Linked DNA regions of Homo sapiens: regions 1, 2 and 3 are each linked to region 4. Evidence: fine-mapped expression QTL. A gene starts in region 4. Each other region holds a variant in brackets. All regions are shown on one strand. Distances are between the middles of the regions. Region 1 overlaps DPF3 (double PHD fingers 3). Region 2 overlaps RGS6 (regulator of G protein signaling 6). Region 3 overlaps DPF3 (double PHD fingers 3). Region 4 holds the start of DPF3 (double PHD fingers 3).

Evidence for each region. PIP is the estimated chance that this variant, and not a neighbour inherited with it, causes the effect.
Region 1: its variant is fine-mapped to the expression of DPF3 in testis (GTEx, PIP above 0.99).
Region 2: its variant is fine-mapped to the expression of DPF3 in whole blood (TOPMed, PIP 0.99).
Region 3: its variant is fine-mapped to the expression of DPF3 in tibial artery (GTEx, PIP above 0.99).

Annotation. Positions count from the first base shown.
Region 1 is chr14:72,816,244-72,823,936 of GRCh38, forward strand. All of the region lies in intron 1 of DPF3 (double PHD fingers 3), which reads right to left. Among named protein-coding and RNA genes, the nearest start is that of DPF3, 74 kb to the right of the region's middle. The variant T/C (reference allele first, on the strand shown) is at 3,081.
Region 2 is chr14:72,515,413-72,523,105 of GRCh38, forward strand. RGS6 (regulator of G protein signaling 6) reads left to right here. Exons shown (of 18, transcript NM_001204424.2): 15 at 2,939-3,125. It overlaps MIR7843 (microRNA 7843), which reads left to right and starts at 1,408; the gene lies at 1,408-1,486. RefSeq lists enhancers at 3,537-3,606, 4,077-4,226, 4,317-4,406. The variant T/G (reference allele first, on the strand shown) is at 3,890.
Region 3 is chr14:72,807,872-72,815,564 of GRCh38, forward strand. The region is part of intron 1 of DPF3 (double PHD fingers 3); the gene reads right to left. Among named protein-coding and RNA genes, the nearest start is that of DPF3, 82 kb to the right of the region's middle. RefSeq lists an enhancer at 1,943-3,142. The variant T/C (reference allele first, on the strand shown) is at 4,841.
Region 4 is chr14:72,890,056-72,897,748 of GRCh38, forward strand. It overlaps DPF3 (double PHD fingers 3), which reads right to left and starts at 4,046. Exons shown (of 11, transcript NM_001280542.3): 1 at 4,002-4,046. The coding sequence starts at 4,033. It overlaps LOC107984711 (a long non-coding RNA gene), which reads right to left. Exons shown (of 3, transcript XR_001750998.1): 3 at 7,316-7,590. RefSeq lists an enhancer at 4,006-4,300.

The sequences.
Region 1 (7,693 bases), 74 kb before region 4:
CCTCCCCACCCTGGGACCAACAGATTCCCAGCTCCAGCAGGATAACATCATAACCTTAATAAGATTGACATTTGCATCCTGTTTTATATTCATCAGCATTCTTACACTTACGTTATGTTATCTGGCCTTCTCCATCGTATGAGTCTAATGGTGCAGATATTCTCCACCCCACATTCTCCAACCCTCAGAAAGCTGAGGTACTTTCTTATACAGCAAGTGGGTAGAAGCCAAGATCAGAACCTTACCCCCAACCCACCCCTTGATACCAGAAGAGCCTATTGACTCAGAACAAAACTCAGGCAAACCCCCCACCTAGCTGAGCTTCCCCTCCTTCATCTGCAGGATGGAAAACAGGGTAATACCTGCCCTGCCTATCCTGATACATCAGGCATAAATGGAAAAAAAAAAAAGGAAGTAGTATGTAAAAGCACTTTGGAAATGTTAAAATGCTATGCAAATTATAAGGAACTGTTCTGATTATACTCTCAAGAAATGTCACAAATTTTCTCCAAAAGTGAATAATTGTCATTACTTTTCAACTTCATCCCCTTGAAAAGCCAGTTTCTCCTCCTGTCATCTTTTATTTCTGGTTAAAGCAGAGATGTTATACTCAACATTCCAACTGGAATATCAAGATCAATCTTTAATTCCTCCTTCCAGCTTCACCCTTTCTGAAATCAAGAACAGGCAATTCTCTACTCCACCCACCATCTCATCCTCAGTTTCTCTTGCCATCTGCCCCCCTCTGAAGCTAGAAATCACCAGCAACCATTTTCATTCCTCATCCCTCCGGTCTCTCCTCAGTCAGAGCCAACCTACATGATGCAAAAGCACCACTCCAATCACCTCTCTCAGAGGCTCACAGCCCCGGGGGGACAGCGTCCAGGGGTCCTCCACGGGCTGCCCCAGTGAAGCTCTCCAGCTTGTCTCCCATGACTCACCAACCCAGGTAAGCCTAAATGGCCCTGTTTCCCAAAACTCAACTCTCTTCCCACTTTTATGTCCCCACTATATCTGGAACTCCCTTTCCCACTATTTAATTAGCTATGGGGGTAGGAAGAATCAAACTAGACCCCCAGCTCTTACATCAACCTAAATATATTCCAAGTGAATCAAAGAATTGTGGTTAATGGCTGGGCACGGTGGCTCACACCTGTAATCCCAGCACTTTAAGAGGCCAAGGTGGGTGGATCACCTGAGGTCAGAGGTTCGAGACCAGCCTGGCTGGGTAACATGGCAAAACCCCGTCTCAACTAAAAAATAATAATAATAATACAAAAATTAGCCAGGCATGGTGGCGCAAGCCGGTAGTCCCAGCTACTTAGGAGGCCAAGGCAGGAGAATTGCTTGAACCCACCCAGCAGATGGATGTTTCAGTGAGCCAAGATTGCACCATTGCACTCCAGCCTGGGCAACAGAGCAAGACACCACCTCACAACAAAAACCACACACACACAAAGAATTGAGGTTAAAAAAAATCCAGATTATATAGATGAATATCTATCTGATAGCTGAATGGGGCTGGAATTTCTAGGCTACATAGCAATGGAGTAAATCAGAGGAGAATAAAATGAATAATAGTTAACATTTACCTATTTTCACTTCTTTTAACTGGATATCCATATTTTAAAAGTAAACATACCCTTTACTTCATGTTGTACACAAAAAATAACAAAATGGATCACAGAATGAAAGAAATGCTAAAATTAGAAAAATTCCAGAAGAAGGCCAAGCACGGTGGCCTGTAATCCCAGCACTTTGGGAGGCCAAGGTGGGCAGATCACTTGAGGTCACGGGTTTGAAACCAGCCTGGCCAACATGGTGAAACCCCTATTAAAAATACAAAAATTAGCTGGGCATGGTGGTACACACATGTAATCCCAGCTATTCAAATGGCTGAGGCACAAGAATCCCTTGAACCCAGGAGTCAGAAGTTGCAGTGAGCAGTGATCGAGCCACTGCACTCCAGCTTGGGCAACAGAGCGAGACTCTGCCTCAAAAAAAAAAACAAACTTCCAGAAGAAAACATGGGGAAAATCTTCATAACCTTGGTGTAGGCAAAGATTCTTAGGACACAGAAAATAAGAATCACAAAAGGGAAAAATAACCTGGACTTCAAAATTAAAAATTTCTGCTCTTCAAAAGACATTGTTATGCTGGGTGTGGTGGCTCATACCTGTAATCCCAGCACACTGGGAGACCAAGACGGGAGGATCATTTGAGACCAGGAATTCCAGACCAGCCTGGGAAACACAGAAAGACCCTATCTCTACAAAGAAGTTTATTAACCAGGTGTGGTGGCTCATGCCTGCCGTCCCAGCTACATCGCAGGCTGAGGCGAGAGGACTGCTTGAGCCCACGAGTTCGAGGTTACAGTAAGCTTTGATCATGCCATTGCACTCCAGTGTGGGCAACAAAGACCTTGTCTCTAAAAAGATAAAAATTTAAAAATTAAAAAGACATTGTTTAAGATAGGAGATATGGTTGTACAACAATGGGAGTATAATTCACACCACTAAATACTCAACATGATTCCAATGGCATCTTTTATGTTACGTATATTTTACTACAATTTTTTTAAAAGATGTTGTTAAGAGGATGAATAGACAAGCCACAGATTGGGAGAAATGATTCATAGTACATATATGTACATAGTATAGTCATACAGTATATAGATACATGTATACACAGTACATATATAGCACATACATGTACATACATACATATATGACAAAGGATCTATATCCAGAATATATAAAGAACTCTAGCAATTTAGTAATAAGGCAAACAACACAACAAAAGATTTGAACAGACCCTGCACAAAAGAAGATAGCCAATAAGCACGTGAAAATATGCTCAGCATCATCAGTCATTAGGGAAATGCCCACTAAAACTACAGTAAGCTACCGTTCACACCCATTAAAATGGCTAAAATTCAAAAGACTGGTAATGTCACCTGCTGGTGAGAATATATAGCAACCAAAAGCACAGCCACTGCTGACGGGAATATGCAATGGTGCAACCACTTTAGAAAATAGTATGGTAGCTGCTTATTCTAAAAACATGCATTTACCATATGA[T/C]TGAGAAGTTTCACTACTAAGTATTTATCCAAAAGAAATGGGGGAAAATGGTATGTCAAAAAAGAGACATACACAGATGCTCGTGGCAACTTTATTCATAATAGCCAAAAACTGGAAACAACCCAAATGTCCATCAACTGGTGAATGATTACAATATTTTGGAAAATTCATATGATGAAAAACTCAGCAAAAAAAAAGATGTTACTGCATTGGTATCAGGACTGAAAAAAATAAAAATAAAAATTAGCTGCTAATGTACACAACAATGTGGATAAGACTTTTTTTTTAAAAGGCCGAGTGAAATAAGCTAGATTCAAAAGAGTAGATAGTGGTCAGGCATGGTGGCTCACATCTATAATCCCAGCACTTTGGAAGGCCTGGGGCGAGTGGATTGCTTGAGCCCAGGAGTTCAAGACCAGCCTGGGCAACATGGGAAAACCCCATCTCTACTAAAAATACAAAAATTTAGCCAGGTGTGGTGATATGTACCTGTGGTCCCAGCTACTAGGGAGACTGAGGTGGGAGGATCACTTGAGCCCAGGAGGCAAAGGTTGCAGTGAGCTGAGATTGCACCACTACACTCCAACCTGGGCGACAAAGTGAGAACTTGTCTTATTAAAAAACAAAAGGTAGATAGTGTATGATTGTGTTTACATGAACTCTTAGAATCAGCAAAATTAATCTACAGTTACAGAGAGGGGGTGAGTACAAAGAGGCACTAAGGAACTTTTGGGGATAATAATAATATTCTATTGTGGTTACATGGGTATACACATTTGTTAAAATTCATAGAACTATATATTTTGAATGAGTACATTTTATTGAATGTAAATTATACCATAGTTTTAAAAGAACTTTTTAAAAGTCAAGATGCAAACTGGGGAAAATATTTGCCACATGTATGACAAATTAATATTCTTAATATACAAAATGTCATGCAAATTGATATAAAAAGCATTAAGACCTCAACAGGCAAATGGCCAAAAGACACAGAAAAGCCACAAAAGAGGAAATAAGAATATCTAATAAACAGGTTAAAATTAAAGCAATGAAATACTGTATTTCACAAACCAAATGAGCAAATTTCACCTATCAAATGAGTTTTTTTGTTTTTGTTTTTTGCTTTGATGATAATTTTTGTTTTGTTTTTACTTTAATGATAATACTAGTATTGTAGGACAAGATGAGCACTCTTCTGGTAAAAATATAAATTGATACATTTCTAGAACACAATTTGGAACACTATTATATAAGCTTTAGCAGGAACATTAAAGTTAAGACCCAAAACCTTAACAATTTTCAGATTATTTGACCCACTTCTAGAAACCTGTGCTAAGGAATAAACAAAGATGAATGATCAAAATTAGAGATTTACAGGCAAGAGTTTTCAGCCAGGCACTGTGGTTCACACCTATAATCCCAGCACTTTGGGAGGTCAAGCTGGGAGGATCACTTGAGGTCAGGAGTTCGAGACCAGCCTGGGCAACATGATGAAACTCCATCTCTACAAAAAATTTTAATAATTAGCCCAGGCACAGTGGCTCACTCCTGTAATCCCAGCACTTTGGGAGGCTGAGGCAGGCAGATGACTTGAGACCAGGAGTTCAAGACCAGCCTGGACAACATGATGAAACCCCATCTCTACCAAAAATACAAAAATTAGCCGAGTGTGGTGGCACATATGTTTGTAATCCCAGCTGCTTGGGAGGCTGAGGCATGAAAATCGCTTGAACCTGAGACGCAGAGGTTGCAGTGAGCTGTGATCACGCCACTGTACTCCAGCCTGGGCAACAGAGTGAAACTCTATCTCAAAAAAAAAAAAAAAAAATTAGCGGGCGTGGTGGCATGCACACTACTTGGGAGGCTGAGGTGGGAGGCAGAGCCTGGGAGGCAGAGTCTGCAGTGAGCTGAGGTCACACTACTGCACTCCAGCTTGGGCAACAGAGTAGGACTGTGTCTCAAAACAAGAAAAAACAAGTCTGGCCATGGCGGCTCAGTCCTATAATCCCAGCACTTAACAAGGTAGAGGCAGGAGGATAGCTTAAGCCCAGGAGTCCAAGACCTGCCTGGGCAACATAGCAAGACCCCATTCTCCACCAACAAAAGGGACAAAAAAGAATTTTTATTACTGACCTTGTTTCTAGCAAGAAACAATCTAGGATAAGCCACTAGGTTGAGTAAACGCTGGCATCAATATGATGAACTATCGAATATTGTCCATGGTACAAACTTAATAAATATTTCTCAAATATACTCAACGTATACACTATATAAGAACCTTAGAAAGGAGTGAGATGTGTAGATGACTTACACTTATGGGTAGAGAAACACATAAACAAATTGTTTCATTGCAGCAAATATTGGAAATCATCTAAATGTTCATCAAGAGAGGTGAAATTAGGCCGAGTGTACTTGCTCATGCCTGTAATCCCAGAGCTTTGGGAGACCAAGGCAGGAGGACTGCTTGAGGCCAGGAGTTCAAGACTAGACTGAGTAACATGGCGAGAGCTCATCTCCACTAAATTTTTTTTTTAATTAGCCAGGCACTGTCGTGTGTACCTGTAGTCCTAGCTACTCAGAAGGCTAAAGTCAGAGGATCACTTGAGCCCAGGAGTTCAAGGCTGCAGTAAGCTATGACACGCCACTGCACTCCAGCCTGGGTGACAGAGTGAGATCTTGTATTGAAAAAAAGAGGTGAAATTAAATAAATCATGGTATGTCCACACAATGAAATGCTATGCATCTGTTAAAAACAGGCCAGATCTAATCTATGTCCTAGGCTGGGCGCAGTGGCTTGTAATCCCAGCACTTTGGGAGGCCAAGGTGGGTGGATCACCTGAGATCAGGAGTTCAAGATCAGCCTGGCCAACATGGTGAAACCCCATCTCTACTAAAAAATACAAAAAAATTAGCTGGGCGTGGTAGCACATGCCTGTAATCCCAGCTACTCGGGAGGCTGAGGTGGGAGGATCACTTGAACCTGGAAGCCAGTGGAGGTTGTGGTGAGCCAAGATTGCTCCACTGCATTCCAGCCTGGGCAACAAGAGTGAAACTCCATCTCAAAAAAATAAAATAAAATAATCTATGTCCTAGATTGTTAAAAAATTTTTAAAGGTGCAGAACAGGGCACTTGGAATGCTACTATTTGAAGGGAGAAAAAAATAAAAGGACACATAAATATTTATGTTTATATAACATCACCAGAAAGATACAGAAGAAAAAACAAAACAGGTAAGTCTATACTGAAAGACTAGGGTCTGAGGATGTGAAAACAGGGGTGACAGAGACTTAGATTTACTTTTTGCTCTCAATTACTTTCTGTAGTGTTTAAATTTTTTACCATATACAGGTTTTTCTTTTTCAAAAAAACACCACCAAAAACAAAAACACAGATTTTTTTTTAGAAGGAAGGGGAGTGTTATGGATTGAGTTTCTTAGAAGGAAGGAGAGTATTATGAGTTGAGTTTTTTAGAAGGAAAGAGAGTGTTATACGTTGCATTATATCCCCTTTATATGTTGAAGTCCTAACCCCCCTACAGGTTGAACATCCCAAATTCACAAATCTGAAATGCAAAATCCTCCAAAATCCAAAACTTTTTGAGCATCAACATGACTCATGAAGATCTCACCCAATTTCCCAGAAGCCCTCGCTCCCATCGGACTAGAATCTTCTTTTGAGAGGCCTTTCCTTTTCTCATCCCTATTGCAACCAGTACAAAAAGCAAAACAGAAAGACACTAAAGCAAAACCAAAGTTTTAGTCACAAAAACCAAATGGGTTGGCGAGGGAAGGTGGTGGTTACAGGGAAGGTTTTAAGCTCACCAGGCCCTGTAGCTGAGGTTTCAAAATGGCAGCTAGCTGGACGCCATCTGGTCTAAATCTGCTCACCCAAACCTCCCTCCAGTTCTCCAAGGGATGTCCCTAATTACTAGCACAGCCAGCTGCCAACATGGAATCTAGGTCTCCCTTCTTTCAAATATTAGAGATGTGAGACCAGAAAGATTACTTCCCAATACCAGAGAAAAGGCTACGAGGGAGGAACAAGGGAGAGAAGGAGACCTTCACTGCAGCATGCAAGGACATGGCGGACGCGTCCCATCCCATATCTCAGCTATTATGCATTCCCAACTGGCTTGGCCAACATCCAGAGAGACTCCAGGCTGGTGAGTCTGTGAATGTGAAGTAGAGATAAGCAAGGCGGCGAGGGGGAGCTCGCCCACTGTTATATACGGGCTGCAGCATTGCGTGGCGAGGAGTCAGGGGAATCTTCCATTTCCAAGACATTTCTGCACTCGATCCTGCTCCCCAAGACTAAGAATTCTTTCTTGGCTTCCTCCCACTCCCTGGAATGTAACTAAGCAGTTACCTTGAGAACAAGGAAAAATTGGGGGCTAGGGAGGTGTATGAGTGTTTTAATGTGTTAAAAATCACATTTACCCTGGATACTTGTTTGCAATAAAACAGAGAGTAGGAAACTCCATTCTTACCTTCATCTATGGGACAGGCACCCAGTGGCAATCATTGTGAGAAATAGGGAGAGGCTGATCTATGCTTAGGGAGCTCAGAAAATGCTATGCTTCCTTCCAGCTGTAGGGAAGCTGAGCCACTGGGGA
Region 2 (7,693 bases), 370 kb before region 4:
CCCAGCACTTTGGGAGGCCAAGGCGGGCGGATCACTTGAGGCCAGGAGTTCAAGACCAGCCTGGCCAACATGGTGAAACCCCATCTCTGCTAAAAATGCAAAAATTAGCTGAGCATGGTGACATGCCCCTGTAATTCCAGCTACTCAGGAGGCTGAGGCAGGAGAATAGCTTGAACCTGAGAGGCGGAGGTTGCAGTGAGCCGAGATGTAGCCACTGCACTCCAGTTTGGGTGACAGATCATGACCCTGTCTCAAAAAAATTGATTATGAAATTTGTATTTCCATCAGCTCCGGTCATCTCTATATCCAGCTGAGTGATGTACATTTTCATGTGGCACCCAAATCATCCTGCAAAAAGGACCCTGAGCCCTCAGGAACCGCAGGGAGCCTGCAGAGCTCCCAGGGTCCTCAGGGCCTTCCCACAGGGGCTCAGCAGCTCCTCCTCAGTGCTGACAGAGGTGACAGAAAGTGACCTCCCATGTGGCATTGATTGAGGGGGCAGGAAATCACCCAGGTGTCATCCATTTGTGTGAGAAGTTGCAGGGGCCCAGGGGGCGTGGGAAGACGCTGACCCAGAAGGTTGCTTCCAGCCAGGGATTCAGCCCAGACGGCCTCCCTCTGTGAACCTGGTTCTCCTGTCTGCCTAGCATGGGGCTGAGGAAGCCTCACTGACTTCGTCTCTGGACATTTGACCCCTTCTGGGCCTTGGAAAAGCCAACACTGGCTTCTTCCTATAGAGCCAGGTTCCCCGCATCTTTCACCTACTGGTCAGACATGGCCTTCCAGGCAGAGAAAGCCTTGTAGGTACTCTCACCAGCAGATGGCCATTTTCACTTGGCAAGCCTCCCGGCCACTTCCTTCTTTTCACAGCAGACCTGAGAGAGTGGACAGAGAGCCCTACAGAACCTAGGGCAGGCCTGGGAGATGGAGGAGACCCATGCCCCAGCTCAAGAGTCAAGGGCCCACCTGAACAATGAGGTAGGGGAACAGCTCCTTTCAAGCCCTTCCTTCCCCACCCTCTCTGGACTCTGGATAAAGAAACACGACTGCTTTCCTCTCACCCAGAAGCCAGAAGGACCTGAGCACCCAGGACTTGTGGCTGTCAGAGAGCTGTGGAAGGGCAGGGGACACCAGATGGCAGCAGCAAGAGCTGGGCGGCAGCATCTGCCCAGGCCACCTGCGGAGAGAAGGCTGGAATCCGAGGGATCACACTGGGCCAGCATTGAGCCTGTGGCCACCACACTGACCCCTCCTCAGCTCCCCCTCACAGGACCTGAAAGCATTTCTGAGTTAAGTCTGCATAGGAAGTTTTCCAGAGCCATGCCACATATCCCTCCATCCACTCAGTGCCCATTTTACAGATGAAGAGAGAGGCACCCAGAAAGGTACACCAAGGCAAGATATGGCGTAGACAGGATGAGGGCAGAGCCAGCTTCCTGATCTGATGGAAGTCATGAAGCCTTCTCTGCCTTACGCTTGGCTCTGCAGGGTCGCTGAGAGGTTCCTTTAAGGAGATCATCAGAATCCTAAATGGCAAAAAATGGCAAATCAGGGGAAGAGTTGGAGCCCAGCATTTGGGGACACACACACACACACACAGTCGTCTTGCCTTGCAGAAATTGGGTTGCATTACTCCAGTCTGCCACTGAGTGGCACCTTTGGGCCATGCACTTGGCTCCAAAGACATTTCTCTGAACAGCAACAGAAAAACATGTTTAACCCTAAAAAAAAAAAAAAAAGAAACAAGTACATCTTACTTTGGATGAAATTTGATGACAGATTGAATGCACTGTCTGCACTTTCCACCACGTCATGTTTCAGCTTCGCTTGTCCCTCCCTTTCTGTTGACTAGACTACCTGTGATTCCCGCTGCTCTCGGAACCAGCACAGGACCTACTCTCTTACTCACTGATGGGGGAGCTGGCCTGTCCATGCACAGGGCAAAGGATATGACACCCAGACCTGGATCCTGCTGCAAGGCTGCCTTGGGAACCATCCTTAAGACCCGGTAGCTGTTGTCCAAGCTTTGGCTCTGGCTGCTGCTGCTCTCAGCAGAAAAGAGCTCACTGCTCCCATGCGGATGCTGAGGGATTAAACAGAGGCAAATACGGAAGTGAGCAGATTTTTCTCTCTTGCTCTCAGCAGAAGGAGAACCATTCTGCAGAGAAGTTTTCAACATATGCCTCTTCAGCATTGCTCCAGATGCGTCCGTCTTCACTCTGAAACCCATATATTGAGCACCTACTATTTGCCAAGCACCGTGCTGAGCACTGATGTGAATTGGCTCAGTTTCTCCATCTATAATAGGAATGGCTGGTTCATTCTTACACAGATAGTCTTTATGATTCCAGGACACTGCCTGCTTCTGGGATCTCTCCTCCATTTTGATGCCATCACTTGATCCCAACTAGATTTGACAAAGGGTCTCACACTGTCTGCATGGTGGCATGTATGTAGCACTGGGGTTCTCAACCAGGAATGAGTTCATCTCCCAGGGGACATTGGGCAATGTTTGGAAACATTTTTAGTTGTCATAACTTGGGAAGGGGGGTTGCTATTGGCATCTAGTGGGTAGAGGCCAAGGTTGCTGCTAAACATCCTACATTTCACAGAATAGCCTCAACAACAAAGAATTATCCAGCCTGAAGTGGCAATAGTGCTGAGGTTGAGAAACCTTCATGTAGAAGGAGAGAAATCCCGTTCTGATAACGAGAAGCACATTGATCTTTTAATATGCAATTCTTTTCTGTTCTGCACCATAGGAACACCTTTGATGTTTTCACAATCTCCATGGTCTTTGCAGCTCATGTAGTGGCATCAGGGCAGGCTGAGAGATGCAGCAGAATGGGTTTCATGGGACATCAGCTCTGGGGCCATCTCAGGCAACATCCCGATGCTGAGCCCCCTGGAACTGACTGTGTTTCTGCTCCCACTTCAGGTTCTGGCTGGCTGTCCAAGATCTTAAGAAACAACCCCTACAGGATGTGGCCAAGAGGGTAGAAGAAATCTGGCAAGAGTTTCTGGCTCCAGGGGCTCCAAGTGCAATCAACCTGGATTCTCACAGCTATGAGATAACCAGTCAAAATGTCAAAGATGGAGGGAGATATACATTTGAAGACGCCCAGGTTTGCTTATCTACTCAAGTGGTTGTCATAAGGTGTTCATTTGTCCCCTTCATTGCCTGACCTATTAACACAAGTTCAAGGCATTGTGGGTAGTTAAAATTTCAGATTTGGTTATTTTTAAGTTCATCAGTGGAAACCATTTCAGATAGGCGCACAGCAAAATCCCAGGATCGTTTTCCTAGATGGGTTATGTATTACATAGAAACCAAAATGTGCAGTTATATGCTTTATTTGTTCCAGGAAAGCCTCAAAGTGTTTTACAAAATCTGAAGGCTTGTAATAAGTCAGTGATAGAATCTGGAAACCAGAACACAGCATTGGGGAAGTGGGTGTAGTGAGTTAGCAGGGCCATGAGTCAAACCCACATCTGTCTACCTCTGAAGCCCACACTGATAACCACCTCTCTACACTGCTTCCGCAGTGATCTCCAGCTCTGCAGTGAATATTTTTTAAGCACATCTATATTCCAGGCTCTGCGCTATGTGATAAGATACCACAAAGAACAGGCAAAACCCCTGTTCTCACCGAGGTTGAGTGGGAGACAGACAAGTAAATGGGCAACTTCAACAGTGTGAAAAGTGCCCCAAATGGGTGAACCCTAGGTTAAAGCAAGCCTGCAGGAGGGACTCCCAACCCTGTAGGACACAATTAAGATGCTCACAGATGCTAGTGATGCTGGCTAAAGAAACAGGAACCACCCTAACCAGCAGACTAAATTTTGACGGCTGGGAGGTGCCATTTCTAAAAATAAGCATTGGGTTGGT[T/G]TCTTACTTCCTGGCCCCTAATTTCTATTTCCTGTCACCATCCCACACCCAGTGACAGGGCTTAAGATTTTGCTTATCTCCTTGACCCCACTTACTTCTCTCACCTCTGGGGCCCCCAGTAGAGAATTTGGGTGGTTTGCCCCTTGCAGACATTATTATCTGATTTAGGAAACTCAGTGTAGCTGCACCAATGCAAATAATGGCATGAGAACAGTGTCCCTTATCATCCAGAATTACCTTGTCATTTGCTCAGAACTTCAAGATGGAAACACCTACCAACCTCAACACCATAACTATCTACTTCTCTCCCCCTGGTCACGAGCTCCATCAAATGCCTGTGCCAATCACGAAATCATGACTCCTTCATATACCCCTTGCAGCTTCAAAGCAGAATGTTTGAGTCATGAGAGCTCTTTGCTGAGATATTTTTGCTTATGTGTATGTACGTATGCTTTCAAGCACCATATTGACATGGCCAGAGAGGAGAGTGACAGGGGAGTTCCGTGGGGGTTCCCTGCATGAACAAGCTGAAGCTCAAACTCCAATATTTATGAAACACAAGAAGAGGGATACTGGTCAAAACCTTGATGCATCTAGCACAGTATTAACACTCCAAGCATGACATCAGGAGGGATTTATTTTAATTTTTTATTATGAAAACTTTTAACACTTGGAAAAGTGGAAACAGCAAAACAGCAAACATTTATAGACCCTCATCCAGCCTCAAAAATCATCAGTACACGTCTGATCTTGCTTTATCTCTAGCCCCATCTACTTTTTCACCTGCCACCAGGTTACTTTACAACAAATCCAAGATGTTGCATCATTTCATCTGTAAACTTAGATATGTATCTCTAAAAAAAAGATCCTTTTGTTTTAATATTGCCACAATATCCTTTATCTCCCTCCCTTCCTCACATCCCCTTGCAATTTATTTGATGAAGGATTTAGATCCTTTGTCCTGTAAAGAGTTCCAAGCTCTGGATTTTTCTGATTGCAGCCCTGTGGTGCTATTTAGCATGTTCTTCTATCATCTCTCTTTCCTATAAATTCGTTTTATAAGATATTTAATCAGATTTAGGTTTGATTTTTATGGACAAAACCACTTCATGGATTGTGTGGTGCTCTCCTATCAGAAGGCACATGTCTAGCCACCTCTCTTTTTGACCTTTTTGCAGATATTGATGTCTATCGCTTATATCCATTAGTTAATTAGAGGTTACAAAACAACAACGTACTAATTTTATTCTTTCTTCACTTATTAGCTGGAATACTTTCATAAAGAGAAACTTCCCTCCACCACTATGGTATTAACTAGCAGTACAATTCACATAAGAAAAGCAGGATAAATATTTGATTCTCTCCCTTCATTTGCCAGTTTTCAAAATGAGTGGTTTGCTATTATCTTCCTATGGTAAACATTAGGGTCTATTTTGGTTTTACTATCTTTGTAAACTCATGAGTTTAAACATATATGCTATGTTTTAATCCATTTTGCTGATTACTTTTATTGATGCTTGGATTGGGCCATCTCTGGCCAGTTGGCTCTTTCTGACACAGCCCTAAGAGTGATCTTTGACATCATCCAAATAGCAGGGAAGCTAAGATATTCCAGTCTTTGCCCTTACCCAGAATAAGCTGTTTCTCCAAGGATCCCTGATTCCTCTTAGTGAGAAATGGTATTTAGAGACTAAAATCTAGGCACTTAGAGTGTTTCATTGTTCCTGGATTGTTTATCATTTCCAGCCCTTTTCAGTCGACAGAGCTAGGAAATGTGTTGCTGTTTATAATAAAAATACATCCTGAGTTCATACTGATACTTTTAATTCAAATTCTGACCTACAGGGGATTTTATTTAACCGCTTGTTTCTTACACCTGTGCCTCTTTTCTCTATGCTGACAATCCTGACTTTCAAGGGCACTGGATGATAGCATAATTACTCATTTGCTTTATACTACACAGAGCAGTCTCTAAACCACAATGCTAAAAATACAGCAACAGTATGATTATCGCCTGGTTCTTTAATTGTTGCATAGTATTCCGTTGTGTGGAGGCACCATAGTTTAGTCAACCAGTCCTCTCTTCTTGGACATTTATGTTGTCTCTACTTCAAGAAAGTTTTGATGGAAGAAGTGGGGAAGTCAGCCTAACGAAGGTTACATATTGACAAGTATCTCAATATCCAACCTACAGTGCTCTACCATTTTCCAAGTACTTCTAAATACATTCTATCTAATTTCTACAGCAATCTAGACTAGACATGAGGATGTCTTAAGCATCCCCATCTTCTTCATTATCTGCTAGGATTAGTCTCCCATGAATTCAAATAAAACACTCTTCCTAAGCCAATCCCTATTTTCAGACCAATTTCCTATTGCTTCTGAAGTGTATTTCCACCATAAATATACAAAGTGTTCCTTTCTAGCAGAGTGACCTTGGACAAGTTGCTTAAATTCCCTGAGTCTTCCTTTCCTCATCTGTAGAACAGGGATACAATGGAGCCTACACATAGGGGTGGAATGGGGACCAGGTGAAAGGAAGCATGTCAACCACTAACGATGTCTGGCCCACAATAAGACAGAGTAAATACTACCATCTTATTTTTCTAATGTCACTAATATTCTCTTTTTAAGCCGTAGTGTTTAATGTATTTGGTAAAAATTTTTAAATAATTTCACATAACCTTAGCACCCAGAGATAACCCCTATTTTGGTGTATTTTCTTCCTTGATTTATGTGTGTAGCTACGTGTAAGGTCTGCTCAGGCTGCTACCACAAAATAGCACACACTGGGTGGCTTAAACTACAGAAATTTATCACAGTTCTCGAGACTGACAAATCCAAAATTAAGGTGTCAGCAGATTTGGTTGCTGGTGAGGGCTCACTTCCTGGCTTGCAGGTGGCCGCCTTCTTGCTGTGTCCTTATAACTCTGGTCTCTCTTCCTCTTCTTATAAGAACACTAATCCCGTCATAAGGGCCTCTCTCATGACCTCATTTGAACCTAATTACCTCTCAAAAGACCCACCTCCAAGTACCACCACACTGAGGATCAGGGCTTCAACAATATGAAATTTAGGGAGACACAACATTCATTCCACAACAGGGCGATTTTGCAAATAGCGTGATCCTGTAACCTGCCTTTTACCTAAAACAGGGGTCAGTTAAAAAACTATACTTTTCCTAAAAAGAGCCAGATAGTAGACATTGCAGGCTTTGTGAGTCATGTGGTCTATGTCACAACTATTCGATTCTGCATACAAAAGCAGCTACAATGCAACAACATAGCAATGTAAACAACATAAATGAGGACCTATGGCTGTGTTTATTTATGAACAGTGAAATCCAATTTCATATAATTTTTCACAAAATACAATTCTTCTTTTAGTTTTTTTCAGCCACTTAAAAACATAAAAACTGTTCTTCGCTCATGGGATGTAAAGATCTAGATCACAGGTCTGTATCTGTAGATTTGAATCACAGACTGTAGTTTGTGACCCTGTGCTAAATAAAATCTAGCACATGGTCATGAAAATTATTGAAATGCTTCAAGAAATCCAGAAAGCTACAGGATAGAGGATTGGGCATAAAGGATCTTCAGTTTTTGGGGGAGAGTAAGTTAGAGGAGACTTGGTTTTGACGCAGCCATGGCAACACAGCAATCTGAATTGTGAATGTTTCTACATGAGGATTGAGTGTTGCGGAGCAGAGGTCAGCAGGTGCCAAGAGACTCACACTGCCTTACCTTCCTGGACAGCACTGGCTGCCTGCCCCAGCAAAGTAGGTGCAGTTCAGAAGTTCCCAGG
Region 3 (7,693 bases), 82 kb before region 4:
GGAAGATCACTTGAGCCCTGGAGTTGGAGGCTGCAGTGAGTTATGATCACGCCACTGCATTCCAGCCTGGGCGACAGAGCAAGAACCTGTCTCTAAAACAACAACAACAACAACAACAAGTAATGTGAGAAACAAATGCCCTCCCTCCCTCCCTGAGGGTCACCCCCAGCCTGACCTGATGGATGGGAAAAGATAAGCTCAGAGATGGGGTAAGGATAAGGTGGGAGTTAGGAATGGGGTAGAGGTCAGGGATGGACTGAGAACTAGGAAAGGGAAGGATCAAAGATGGACTGGAGGTCTGGAAGCAGGAAGAGAGAAATGGAGTAAGGGTCAGGGCTGGAGACCAGCAGAACCGAGGTGAAATGTAGGACCATCTGATGGATGGTCACATTAATAACTTTAATTTTTCACCACCAGCTCCCACTACAGCATCCAAACATCCTGCTCTGAAGGAGTGGGAGCAGGGACAGGGAAGAAGAAGAAACCTTAACTGAGTGAACATTTTAAAACAAGCAGGACATTTCGAACTCAAATAGTAAGAGTCACTTTGCTGTCCAAATCCCACCAGTCCTTGGTGTAATACTACAAGTGGGACTTACAAGCAGGACCCGCAAGAAGGTTCTAGTAACTACCTCAGCTTGCAGGACGTAAAATGCCTGGCGAACTTTGCATTCCAAGGACAGGAGTCTTCCAAATTAAAATTTTAATAGTGTGTGAAAATAGTTCGCCATTTACTCTTAGGATGAGGTAGTGTTTAGAAAGTCAGCCTGGAAATCCAGGCCAACATTTTCAGGGATGCCTCCTATTCTGGGAGGAGAAAAACCAGCTTGTTGCTTCCCTCCAGTAGCACAAAGCAGCAGGGAACCGGAAAGAGAGAGGGGTCTGAACAGCTTCTTCTACCAGGAAACCAGCCAAAGGTCTCCGGGCATGTAAGGACATCTGTTTTCAGAAGCTATGGTTTGGATTTTGGCATTCTTAGGAGTCTAGGAGCAATCCTACTAATTTGGGTTCTAGCTCCAACCATACTACCTACCTGCTGTGCGAACCCAGGCAAGTGATTTTACCTCTCTGAGCCTCTGTTTGCTCATCTGGCCCTCTAGACAAGATTAACTTGGCAGTGCCTTGTAGCTCTAATATTCATACTCTCATAAGACTGGATTTGTTCTCACAGGAATGAATTAGTTCCCTGGAGAGTTGGTTGTTAAAACACCAGGGCCCCCTTGGGTTTCCCCATCTTCACACGTGTCTACTTTCCCTTTGACCTTCCCTGCCATGTTGTGATGCAGAAGGAAAGCCCTCGCCAGAGGACAGGGCCATGCCCTTGAACTTCTCAGCCTGCAGAACCATAAGCTAAATAAATCTCTTTTCTTTATAAATGATCCAGTTCCTGGTATTCCATTACAGCAACACAGACAGACACTCCCACATCATCGTCACACAGGGCTTGGGCTGCCTGGCCCTGGCCACTGCCTGCCAACACCAGGCCTGGTCCCTCCATCATCTAGGACCTTGGGGAACATGGCACCGGTGAAGGGCATGGGGGTTACCAGAAAGAGTGAGAAGTCGGCAGGTCAGCACGGCCACACAAGCCACCCTCTCCCAACTTATGTGCAGGCATGATGGCTCCCCATCCACCAGCACTCCTGAGGCCACTACACCAGGGAGGAAAGAAGTGCATGGGGAGGCCTGGTCACACCTGCCCTTCCTTTCAGAACCCTGCATGTGGCTGATGGCAGGTCCTCGGCGCCTGGTGGAAGAGAAAGGGAAGGTGGCACTGGGCTCCACAGGCAGTGATTCTCAGCCCTGCTTGTCACTGGGAGCTGGTTCCTGGGTCCCACCCCAATCTCTTATGATTCCATAGATCAGGAGGAGACCCAAGAACCCAACTTTTCACTTAGCTCTCCAGGGAATACCAATGCAAACGGCCACTGACCACCCCTTGAGCGCCCTGTGGATGAGAGGGTGGAACTAGAGGTTCTAGAAGCAAGTGCTTGAGTCCCCTCACTAGCTGAATGACTCTGGGCAGTTTACATCTCCTTTCAAACCCTCAACTGCCCATCTGAGAAATGGGGATATAAAAGCGTCTGCTTCTTGGGGTTATTTAGAGAAATACATGAGAAAAAGGATGGAAAGCACTTAGCACTGTGCCTGTACATGTTGAGAATCTATAAGAGAAGATCCCCTCTTACTATTCAGGGGTGACTTGTACAAATGCCTTCTTCCATAGCAATCCCTTACTAAACTGGAGCATTTCATAGGGAAGATGCGAATAAGGGCAATGAAGCCTCAGATACAGAGGGCAGCGGAGTGCTGAGACACCTCCGTGCCCTCCCACAACATCCCAGTGCTGTGGTCCAGCAACATACCCGCCCCATCCCTCCAACTCAGAACATGCTCATTGATGTGCCTGAACCCAGGCTAAATGGGAGCACACCTATAGTGGGGGTTCCCCTGTCAGAGATATGCACTGCAAGGGCCTGCGGTCCAGGACACAGAGGAAGGAAGAGACGGGCGGAGAATGTGAATCACATTCATGCCAGGGTGTGTTCTAATACGTCAGCAAATGTGTACCGAGCTTCCGGGCTGCAGAGGAAGGTGGGCGTGTGTGGGGTTAGTGACTTGAAGGGAAAGAGGGGCATGAAAAAGAAGGGGGTGAAGAGTTAGAACTGGTGCAGCAGCTGGGTCTCACACACAAATGGCATGACTCTACTTCACAGGAACTACTCAGAAAGGGAAAAGAATAACTCTAAGAAACAAAGATCTGCCTCCAAATCCAAGAATGGCAGTAGAAAATAGGGTCCCCCACCCAGCAAGCACCCACATCACGTTTCATCAGAAGAACTCTCTATTCTCAGCCAGGCCTGGCACACTGCCTTGACCTTCCCGATCCTGGAGCTGGGCCCTGGGCTCAGAAGACCCCAGACTGTCATTGCTGGAAACAGAATCATTGCAGATATAGTTAGTCAAGATGAAGTCACACTGGAATAGAGTGAGCCCTAATCTTACAGGACTAGTGAGTTAGTCCATTTGTATTACTATAAAGGAATGCCTAAGACTTGGTAATTTGTAAAGAAAAGAGGTATATTTCACAGTTCTGCAGGCTGTAGAGCAACCACGGTGCCGGCATCTGCTTCTGGTGAGGCTTCAGGAAGCTACAATCATGGCGGAAGGTGAAAAGGAGAGCAGGCGTGTCACATGGTGAGAGCAAGACCAAGGCAGCAAGGGTGGGAAGTCCCAGACTTTCAAACAACCAGATCTTGTGTGAACTAACTGGGTGAGACTTCACTCATCACCAAGTGGACGGTGCTAAGCCATTCGTGAGAGATCCACCCTCATGGTCTAATAATCTCCCACCAGGCCTCACCTCCAACATTGGGAATCACATTTCAGCATGAGCTTTGCAGGGGACAAACATTCAAATCATATCAATTAGTGTCCTTATAAAAAAGGGAAGTTTGCCCCATGAAGGAAGAGATTGGGGTGATGTGCCTACAAAGCAAGGAATGCCAAAGATAAGACTGCCAGCCAAGCCCCAGAAGCCAGCAGAGAGGCCTGGAACAGATTCTTCCTCACAGCCCTCAGAAGGAACCAACCTTGCCAACACCTTGATCTTGGACTTTTAGCCTCCAGACTATGATAAAATAAATTTCTGTGAAGTTACCCAGTCTGTGGCACTTACAGCCACCCTAACAAACTAATACACCCAGAACCTTACTATCCTTCACCACACCGATCACCAATGAGGCAAGTCAGAAATTTCCAAAAAGTCTCCACATTTATTTTTCTACCCAATAAACCAGACATGATAGAGGAATTCAAATATAAACAAGACATAGGCCCTGCCTTCCAGAGCTCCTAGGCACACAAATGTTAGTCACTTTACACTTTGCAAAACACTTTCACATATATTGTCTCTTGTAGATCCCCCCATCTCACATTGAGATGGGAAGGGCAAGCTGTAGGTTACTCCCATTCTGCAGATGAGAACACTGAGTTTTGGAGAGTTGGTGGCTTGCTCCAGGGCACCCAGCCCTGGAGCGGCAGAGAGGGAGCTGCAGTAAAGTCTTGAGTCCAAGACAACATTGGTGTGGCTGTTTTCTTTCAGCCTGTCTTGCTGCCTCTCCTGCCGTCTTGGAACCTCTTGCCTCCTTCAAACAGAAGCCCCTGCACTGAGGTCTCTTGTATCTAAGATCTGCCCCAAGTGAGCTCCAGGAGGCAAGGAGGGAGGCCAGCCATGTTAAAGACCAAGTTAAAGACCAAAGTGGCTGCAGCACCATGAGATACCAGTGTAGTCCCCCACCTTCTCTCATAGTCCCTTACCCTGAGGCTGCTCCCACCAGCCCCGCTTACCTTTTTCCCATCCCCACCCCCGGCCCCCAGCCTCTCCCATCCCACAGGCAGGGCAGGTTCCTGGTAACAGCATTGCCCAGTGTTGTCAAAATAGCGAGGAGCTGGAAAGAATTCCAGAATGAAATCTATGTGCCTCTGCAGCCTCCCAACTGACTGCCACTGTGGCAGCTAAACCCGCTAATGTGCTAAGCGTTTTCTGGCAGGGCCAGGAGGCAGGGTTGGTATTTTGGGAGCTGGGAGGGGCTTGGAGGCAACATCCTCGGCAAGTCTGGGAAGGAGGTGGAGGCAGGGAGGCAAAGGGAACCGACCCAGAACACTTCCCATGACGTCACCGAGAGCCACCTGAGCTGCACCTCAGGATTCCTGAAACACTGCTGGCGGAGCGGAGAGTACGGAGAGTACGCTGGGCCCGGTGGGCAGGGCTCAGCAGGGCATGGAGGCTTTGTAGCTAGGCCTGGGGGGAGAGGGCGCTCTAGTATGCCACTTGTCA[T/C]GTACACTTTTTCTGCTGACACAGAGCAGTGTGCAATGCGTCCGGGAGGCTGGGCAGCCCAGGGCTGGCCCAAGCTCTGTTTGCCTGAGTTGGCAGTGGCAGGGCCCATGGTGACCAAACAAAAGACGGGAAGCCAAACGCCCAGAGGCTGGCGGGTGAGGCTCCCTGAGAGGGCTCTGAGGATACAGGCACTGGCGAAGAAGGGCCAGGGGCTCATAGGGATAGGAATGGGGTTGGGGGCAATGGGAACTTGCAGGCAGGGTCCCCTCTGGTTTCCCAGACACACCGCATCGCCTCTGGGCATCAGCCTCTCCACACTGTCCTTGCTTTTCGGGGGCTCCTTCGAAAATGCTTCAAACCATGACACCAGGAAGGGGAGCAAACCACCAAATCTGAGATCCAAACAAGGTCCCAGCATTCCTTTGTCCCTGATGGGCTTGGCTCCAAATTCTGGGAGAAACCAGAGGGTTTTGAGAGAGTCAGGAGAGGGGTTCAGGGGACAAAAAATAGGGCTGGTGAAGAATTCCTTCCGGGAGCCGTCTGGTAGCAGGGAGTACCGTGGGTGGCAAGGCCGTGCTGCTCAGGTGAGGGGACATGGTGTCATTCTGGGAACAGATGAGCCAGTAAAACCCTGACAGGATTCAATCTGGAGGAAAAAAATCCCAGCTGATAGGAACTGCTGAGCGCTTGCAGCTTTTAAAGCCCCTCTAGCAAAAGGATCTGCAAAAGCTTTGCAAACTCTGACCACGCAGCCAGTCAGCCACTTCCCAGCCCACAGCAACGAGAGAGTTTTTGCTACATCAGAACAAACCCACTCACAAATATCTCATCCTGGCCTCCCCCCCGGCACCCATTCCTTTTGGGTCTGTGTGCCTGCCTTCCTCAGAAATGACATTTTGTCAGAGCAGTGAGAGATAGTGTTGCAGGGGCCAAAGGCAGCCAGGGGGCTGGACTGCAACTAGGCTCCCCTGCTCACTAGCGGCTGACCCCAGGCAGGGCACTTAACCTTTATGAATCTCATTTTTTAATCTGCAAAAATGCAAATAATGAAGCTGCTCTTACAGAGTTGGTGAGAGGACTAAATGAGATGATGGATGCTGGGGCTCGAGCACAGAGATGAGGGGCTCCATGACGGCTGGTCCCCCTCCTTCCCACCTTCCTCTCCAGGGCCCTCCGGCACCATAATCAGTGTGGGAAGGATGCAGAACAATGGGAGTTTAATTCAGAGGTTGGCGAGGCAAAGGCATACTTTAATAGAATTCTCTCTCGCCCAGTACATGGTTTCTTGTCCACCCCACCCACCTTTCCCCATCTCTACCGGCTGATAGTCTCTCAGCTAGTAGACCTTTTCTTGTTTAGCAGGGCCACTTTTTTTAAAAACTCCAGACGGGTACCCTCCATGTTGCAGGCGACGTGGCCCTGGATCACTCAACTGACTGTCATTTGAATGGTGCCCCCAGAGTGAGGCAATGGTGCAGCCCTCCTAAGGCCCTTCCTGAGTGTCCCTCCTTCATGAAGATGATTCTGAGGCTTCCCAGGCCTTCACCCTTCTTTGAAAGCCCATAGCAGTTCATATGCACTTCTCTTCTATGCTCACCAAACTCTGCCTTCATCATACTTGGGGGATGTGTGTGAGAGCGAGAGAGAGAGTCCAGCAGGGATTAGATCTGACTTTTATATTCTCTACAGTGCCTGGCACAATGCTAACACATTTGATGAGGCCAGAATTACCCTGATACCAAAACCAGTTAAAGACATTACCAAAAAGAACTTTTTCAATATTTTAATTCTTACCTCATACCCTAGATAAAAATTAACTTGAGCGGGGTGTGGTTGCTGACACCTGTAATCCCAGCACTTTGGGAGGCTGAAGCAGACGGATCTCTTGAGACCAGGAGTTTGAGACCAGCCTGGCCAACAAGGTGAAACCCCGTCTCTACTAAAAATATAAAAATTAGCTGGTCATGATGGCAGGTGCCTGTAAGCCCAGCTACTTGGGAGGCTGAGGAGAACTGCTTAACCGGGAAGGCAGATGTTGCAGTGAGCCGAGATCGCGCCACTGCACTCCAGCCTAGGCGACAGAGCGAGACTCCGTCTCCAAAAAAAAAAAAAAATTAACTCGACATGGATCGTAGAGCTAAATGGAAGACTAAAACTTTCAAACTTCAGAAAGAAAACTTGGAAGAAACTTTTTCTAACCTTGGGTTAAGCAAAAATTTTCTTAAATAGGACATAAAATGCATGAGTCGTAAAGGAAAAAAATTGATACATTGGACTTCACCAACATTTTAAATGTCTACTCTTTGAAAGGCACTAATATGAAAATGAAAACACAAGCTACAGACTGAGAGAAAATATTTGCAAAACATATATCTGATAAAGGATGTTTAGTCAGAATATATAAAGAACTCCTAAAACTCAATAAGAAGACAAATGACTCCATTTCTTTTAAGGTCAAAGAACTGAACAGACATTTCACAAAAGAAAAGATACAGATGGCCAAAAAGCACATCAAAAAAAAAAGGTTCAACATTATTAGTTAGCAGGGAAATGCAATTAAAATCACAATGAGATACCGTTAAACATCTATTATAATGGCTAAAATTTAAAAGGCTGACAATGCCAAGCTCTGGCAAGGATATAGAATAACTACGACTCTTACACACTGCGTGTGGGAATGCTAACTGGTACAGCCACTTTGGAAAGCAGTTTGGCAATTTCTTTTAAAGTTAAATATACAATTATATTTTCATTTCTCCCAGAGATTTGCTCAAAAGAAATAAAAACATATGTCTACACAAAGACCTATAAATAGGAATATTCATAGCAGCTTTCTGCATAATGGCCAAAACT
Region 4 (7,693 bases):
AGAAGGTGGCAGACATTCTCAGTTAAATGCATACCAACCAGGATTTTGATAATACAAGAGTAAGTTGTTTAAAGTACTGATTGCAGATTTGGGGGAAGGTGGTTTATCTGAACTAGAATATTAAGATTCAAATTTATATTAAAAGCATTATGTGGCCAGACATCGTGGCTCACTCCTATAATCCCAGCACTTTGGGAGGCCAAGGCAGGCAGATCACTTGAGGCCACGAGTTTGAGACCAGCTGGCCAAGATGGAGAAACCCCGTCTCCACTAAAAAACACAAAAATTAGCCAGGTGTAGTGGTGCGCGCCTGTAATCCCAGCTACTCTGGAGGCTAAGGCACAAGAATCACTTGAACCCAGGAGGCAGAGGTTGCAGTGAGCCAAGATCCTGCTGCTGCACTCCAGCCTGGGCAACAGAGCAACACCCTGTCTCAAAAAATAATGATAATAATAATAATAATAATAGCATTATGTTTCCCAGGTATGCACAAATCAACCAGAACGTGACTAATCTACATGCAGGCCTTTATCAAATCCATATTTATGTTACCTGCATGTGTTTACTTCACTACCTGGGCCTTATCTCGCTTGTATATGTAAGAAATGAGGGTAACTCTCATACATCTTTGCTCAGACAATGTAGCTGCTAAATTAAATAATATGTAATACACATTTACACATCATACATGTCCACCAGTGCTTTTGAATTCTATTTGTCCAGATGTGACTGCTTGGTTGTGGGGGCCACCTGCCGTGTCCCCTTTGTGATCTGATCAGTGCAGGCGGCTCCTATTTCTGCCTCTAACACCCTGTTGGGCAGTAATAAGATGTTAAAGGCGACAACAGAGAGAGAAGCTGGGCTGTCAGCTTCAGAGAGGAAGGGGGTGAAGGGTACAACAAGGAAGAAAAAGAAAGGGAGTTGAGGGGAGATCAAAGACAGGCAGGAAGAAAGCCAAATTGCTAAGAGAGGAGATGTGGCTTCAGGAGCTTGGGACCCTAAGGAAAACCCCAAAGCAATGAGATTCAAAATTGTGCCATCCCATCACCCCAGCTAATTGAATTATTGAATGTCCCACGTGGAAAAAGCTAGTACAGTGAAAAATAGCCCATACTCAGCGTAGGCAGAGCCCTGCATAGGTGCTGCTGGAAATCTGAGCTTGTTTCTTCCCAACACATTAACTACCACCACTTTATCCCCCCATCCTGAGGAAACCTTTGTGTGACCATTTTCTGTAGGAGACGTCCGTGGTGTTGGCTTTTTTTTTTTTGGAGGGAAGAGAGAGACTCAGAACGCACACAGAGAAAATGCTAATGTCGTTCAGCTCTGTTTCATTGTCAGGAGGGACACATGAGGATAAAAACATAGCTCTCCAAACCATTCTCCCCGCTACCCCTCCTCCCTGCACCACCACCATCCCTTCGGCTGGATGTGTCTCTGCACTTTGTTCTAATTTATCCCATGCATAATTTATTCACGTGTGTATTGTTTCCTGATCAGCAACTTTTAAAAACAAATGAAATATATAAGATGTTTTATTAAACAAGTTATTTTTAAAAAAATAAAGGCAGATGGTGTCCCTCTCCCAATAACAACGTGTGTGCTCCTGCGTTAGGAGTTGTCAAAAACTGTCCAGGGTGTGAGAGGCTGGGCTGGTCAGTGGTATTGTTTATACCCCTTTACTCACAGGGAAAGGGTCTGGGAAGCAGAAAGGAATAGCTAATTATAAATGACCAAGCAACTCCCACCTAGAAAAAGCAAGCAGGGGCGTTGTGTGTATGCTAGTGTCTGCATGTGGGTGGCAACACAATTACAAATACATCACGTTGCAACTGTTTCTAATTATACAAAGTACAATTCAGAACTAATTCCACTAACCGGCCAGAATTCCGCCACCTTCTTTCCCGCGTCTGTCCCTTCCCCCACCCTTAACCCCACCCTACACAGACTCCCTCCCCAAACACGCACCCTACTGTGATCCAAAAAACCCTGGAGCGAGTAGGGGAACACAAGCTTAGAGATACTGCGCCCGCCCGCGCGAAAGCGGGCTCCCGGGTAACTAGGGTACGGCTTTCCCAGGAGGAAACAAACCTGGTGCACATGTGAAATAGGTTCTCTAACTTGAGTTTACCAGGTGGCATCAGCCCGGTTATGTGATTTCGGCTGGAAATGGGGAAACTGAAAATCAGTTGTGGGTTCGGTAGAAACAGCATCAGCGGTGTTGCAGCGAAAGCAACCGGCAGCGAGGATGCGGCGAAGTTACGCCCATTTATTCTGCCATAAAACATTTTCTTTCTTGGGTGAAACGCTGTGGCGTTCAAGCGCAGTGTATCCGAGCTTCCGAGCCAGAACTGAAGCCAGGAGCTCCTATCTGATCAGCCTCAGCTTCCAACGTCCTCTTAACGGCAGCTTTCATATAAATATATTTGAAACCTGGGGCCTTCCTACCCCTTTCCCTATTTCTGATGGGCGACGAGCTGGCGCAAACACGTCCGATTCTCCCTGTGCATTCCTTTGCGTTAGGAACCCCCTACCGTCCCCGGGAGCGAACCTGGTTTTCAACTCCAGGAGTGGCCAGGGGTGAAGACGAGAATGCGCTGAATTAAAAGAACCAGGGTCGACAGCGGCCACGCACCAGGGAGAATTCGGCATGAACCGCCCCCCACCCGACCTGCACCTCCCTCTGCCACTTCGCCTGCGGCTTCGTCCGGGCGGGGAAGTCCCGGTCGAAGGGGTGAGGACCCCCCAGCCCACCTCGGATACGGAGGGAGCCACCCTCTGCCGACATCACCCAATAGCACCCCTTTCAGAGCGACACTAGTTTTCCGAGGCCACCCCTGGCTCCGCGATCGCGAGCGGACTTGGCGGCTTAACAGTTCCACTGACTGGAAGGAAGGAAGGAAGGAAGGAAGGAAGGAAGGAAGGAAGGAAGGAAGGAAGGAAGGAAGGAAGGAAGGAAGGAAGGAAGGATGAAAAGGAGGAGGAAGGCAGGCAGGCAGAAATTGGCTGTTGGACCCGGGGCTGGCCCCCGCGAGTCCTCGCCCGGCCCGCCCCACTCTGTCCAGGATCTGGGCAAGCGCTCAAAGTCTCCCCGAGGCGGCCAGAGGCACCTGCCCCTCGCCCGGCCGGGAGCAGACGCTGCCCCCTCGGGCCAGGAGCCCCAAAACCGCCTCTCCGCCTGCCTCAGCGCCTCACCCAGAGGTGGCGAGAACACCATTCATAAGACCTGCGGCTTCCCTGCCTCCAAATCCACCCCAAGTTAACCCGAGTCGTTAATCCACTAAAGCCAGCTCGCTCGCAAATACACGAGCAGACACACGCTCGATCGCCCGGAGCGCCTCCGAGATCCGGGGGCTGCCGGGGAAAGCCCGGGGCGACCACCTGGGCCCCAGCACGCCCGGGACCCGCTGCTTCCCCCGCGGTGCTCCAACTCCGGAAGGTTTGCACAAACTCCCCGCGAGCGATCGGAAGGCGAAGAGCGCCCTGCAAACTCCGGAGCCTCCGCGGTCCGTCCGCTGGACCCAGCGGACCCAGCGGCGGGGCGGGGGCCGCGGGCTCGGGGGCGCGGGGCTCGGCCAAGTACACCGAGGCGGCCACTGCCCGACGCTCGCCCCCCGCCCAGCAGCCCCCGAAGCCGCGCTCCCTGCCCGCGAGGCGGGGGACTCCGGGGACCGCGCCGTCCCCGAGCTCCCGCGACCCTCCTGCTGTAGAGCGCTCGAGCGCCGGGCTTCTCCGCCTGCAACCCCTATATCTGGCTCTCTCTGCAATTTAGCAGAACACAAATGTAACAATTTTCTTCTTGTTAATTGCATCTCCTGACATTTCTGCGCGTTGGGGGAAAAAAAGAAGATGAAGAAGTAAGAGCTGAAAGAAGAGAGAAGCCCCGCCGCGGCTGGAGGCGCCTGCAAGCGCAATGCTCTGGCAGCGCTCGCCACGCAGAAGGCGCCTTTTTTTTCATATTGAAACCACGCGGAATATGTACATTTTTTAGTCTTACTTACGCTTTCAGGGGGTTGTGAATGACAGTCGCCATTTTGCTACAATGTAACAGAATATTGTCTCAGAGTTCTAAAGGTTCGCTCAGGGGAAGCGACGGGCCAATCACAGCGCGGGATACCGGCCCGCCGGCCAATCGGCGCTGCTGGTAGCTAGGTGGGCGGGGCCTGCGCCGTGGTAGTTATTAGGAGAGCTGTCAAAGCCCAGAGGTCACTCCCTTTTGTAGAGCCCGAGAGCCAGCAGGTCTTAAAGGGGCAGTACAGCGCTGGTAGCTCCTTTTCGGGCTGGGGAAAGTGGAGACGCACGGGAGAGTATTATAGTTTGGTTTAACTCCCTACTTTTCTAAATAACTGCAGAAGAGTTTGCGCTCCCGGACAGAAATATTTAAATATTGCCAGCAAGCCACTGAATCCTATTCATTAGCCTTTGGCTTTGCGTATCAACATTTTTAATCCCCCAAAGGGTAAATCCCCGTGTTTCAGTGCAAAAGTTGGAAGGCTGCCGTTTCGTGTTAACAAATTACTACATGTGCTCTGCCGTTTGCTAATGCTCTGGGTCCTGCCGCTTTTTAATATTCTTATTCCCGAAGTGTTCTCTTTATCTCGGCCACCTTCCTCTCTCGCTTCTTGGAACTGTCGCTGCTGTTCCTGGCGACTCCAGGACAGCAACTCACCCTCCCCCTGGAACGTCTCAATGTCAGGCTCGCTCCCTCCTGCAGCCAGGGCTTTCCTTACGTAGTGCAGGGGGGTTACTCTGCGCGGTTCCCCGCTACCACCCCTTCGGTTCTTCCCTCTACACCAGAAACTTCCAAAATGCTCAGATTCCTGCTAGGTGGTGGGACCTGGAGCTCTGATCTTTAGGCTTAGGGGTAGGGAGGACTTAAGGCAACCTTTGGAAACTTTCTACTGCTAGGAAGCAAGTGACTAGGCAGAAGTTGTAGAGCCTGGACTGGGTGTTATCAGGGTCCCTTTAGAGGAGTGGCACACGCGATTCTGGCGTCACCTTTCACTACTTAGATAGAAGGTGGAAAGAATTTGCTAATGAATAATCCGATGTGACCCGAGGCGTCCAATGAGTCTGTGTCTGCTTCAAGTCAGTGTGAACTCTTCACTGGCGAGCCCCTGACAAAATTGGGAGACTTCTGCGAAGTCAGGCTTCCACTGGGCACCGGGAAGCTCTGGGGGGATGAAATCGCATTAAATCGCGAATAGGGTAGGGGCCTCGTTAGCATACAGAAGTCTGGCTACCATTCCAAAGCTGTTTAATCAGATCAAATAGCTAAGATAGTGGGGGAGGGGTGGCAAGGGGAGAGAAGTTGCCAAATTGCCAGTTCTTCAAAGCTATGCCCTCTCGCTTCCTTTTGCTCCTCTCAAGACAATGAATAAAATAAAATAAACATTCCAGAATTTTAAGAGTTCAACTACATACACTATTAGATTTACAGATAAACAGAACGTGGCTGAATCACTATGTTTTTAAAAGATTTGAAATCTTTAACTCCTCTCTGCGTATTTAAGAAGCAGAATTGAGTTCTATAGATTCCTTTGTAAATCCTTTGCATAGCATCTTGGCAGAGATTACAGTTTGAAAAAGTTATCTCCTTTTCCAAAATTGAAGTTTGAAAAATCCCTTCTTTACTAATTTGACAAGAAATTGGTTCAGAAGCCTATACTTTGCCTGAGGTGGGCCTTGACATCATTGAAAAGCAAGAACTGTATTCTGACCCAAGAAGTATGAGTTTGAATTATCAGTTAGAACTCCCAATAACCTCTTTGAGGTATCAAAGACACAACAATTCAGATTAGTAGACGACAACGTATTTTCTTACATGCAGCCTGATAAAGGAGGAAATGTAGAGCATGTCCTGAACAAGATTTACAATGGGGGAAGAGAGAAAAAACAAATGTATATTACATATTAAAGAAAACACATACTCTAAGCATGTACATATCATTTATTGTGTTAAGGCCTGGATGCAGAAACCAGCATAATCTCTAACTACCTAACGAACTTGAAAATGTCAGATCAGATTTATTGATTGGATTGGAAAATAGTGAATTAAAGACAGTACTTTAAAAAAAAAAAAAGGATAGCCTTGCTTTTTGTAACCCAATGGAATGTCATTTTAACTCTATCAATACAGTTATGACTTTTAAAGAAACACTTATATTTAACAAAAGAGTTATTTTACTTTAATGTTTACATTATAGATCAAAATATAAAGATTTCTTTTTTTTTTTTTTTTTAACCAGAAGGTTCAAAAGCAAAGAGTAGGCATGTTTAAAGAGGACAGTATCCTTAAACAGTTTTGGAGAAGTTTGGCAGTTCTGGGGCAATTTCATAGTGCTGTACATGGCAGAAGTATGAGCTCTGGAATCTACCAGCCTGAGTCCACTATTTACCAGCTGGGTTACCTTGGGCATATTTACTTGCCAGGATTAAATGAGGTAATACATGTCAAGTGTCTGACACACAGCAAGCTTTCAATCCATGTTATTATTTCTTACAGAGATAATTAATTCTTTCCTTACGGCATATGGAATGTAGGGAATCCAAAAAACAAGGCACAACAGAAAGTGAAATTAGCCATCACATTTAGTTTTCTAAACTCATTAATCCAAGAAAAATGAGCAAATGGACAACTTGGATTAGAATAAAATAATAAATAAGAATGATGTTTCAATGAGGGGTCACATAACTATATAACCCTAAAAAAGGCTTCTTGCTGATTGTGATACCAAAACACTTTTTAAATTTTTTTTTTTTTTCTGAGACGGAGTTTCACTCTTGTTGCCCAGGCTGGAGTGCAGTGGTGTGATCTCAGCTCACTGCAACCTCCACCTCCCGGGTTCAAGCGATTCTCCTGCCTCAGCCTCCCGAGTAGCTGGGATTACAGGTGCCCACCACCACGTCCAGCTAATTTTTTGTATTTTTAGTAGAGACAGGGTTTCACCACGTTGGCCAGGCTGGCCAGGCTGGTCTCGAACTTCTGAATTCAGGTGATCCACCCATCTCAGCCTCCCAAAGCCCTGGAGTTTTTTGTCGTTGTTGTTATTGTTTTCAGACAGGGTCTTGCTCTGTTGCTCAGGCTGGAGTGCAGTGGTGCAAACACAGCTCAACATAACTCACTGCAGCCTCAAACTCTTGGGGTCAAGTGATCCTCCCACTTCAACCTCCCAAGTAGCTGAGACCACAGGACAAACCACCATACTCAGTTCATTTTTTAATTTTTTGTAGAGACCAGGTAACACTATGTTGCCCAGACTGATCTCAAACTCCTGGACTCATATGATCCTCCCACCTCAGCCTCCAAAAGTTCTGGGATCACAGGCATGAACTACCGCACCCATAGCCTAAAATCCCATTTCTAAAGCTCCATAGCTATTCATATATTTGAATACACTTCATTGTATTCTATCCCTTTTATCTTGATTTAGCTAGTTAGGCAGCTTAATTTGGAGAGCAGAGTGGCCCCAGAATAATCACCTCCACATCTCACCTGGAGAATGTTGAGCTTCACTGTCCAATATAGGAGCCATGGGCCACAGGTGACTACTGAGCACTTGAAATGTGGCTACTCCCAATTGAGATGCGCTGTAAGTATAAAACAATGCACCTGATTTCAAAGACTTAGGACAAATAGAAGGTAAAATATCTCATTATAATTTTTACATTGATCATTTGTTGAAATGATATT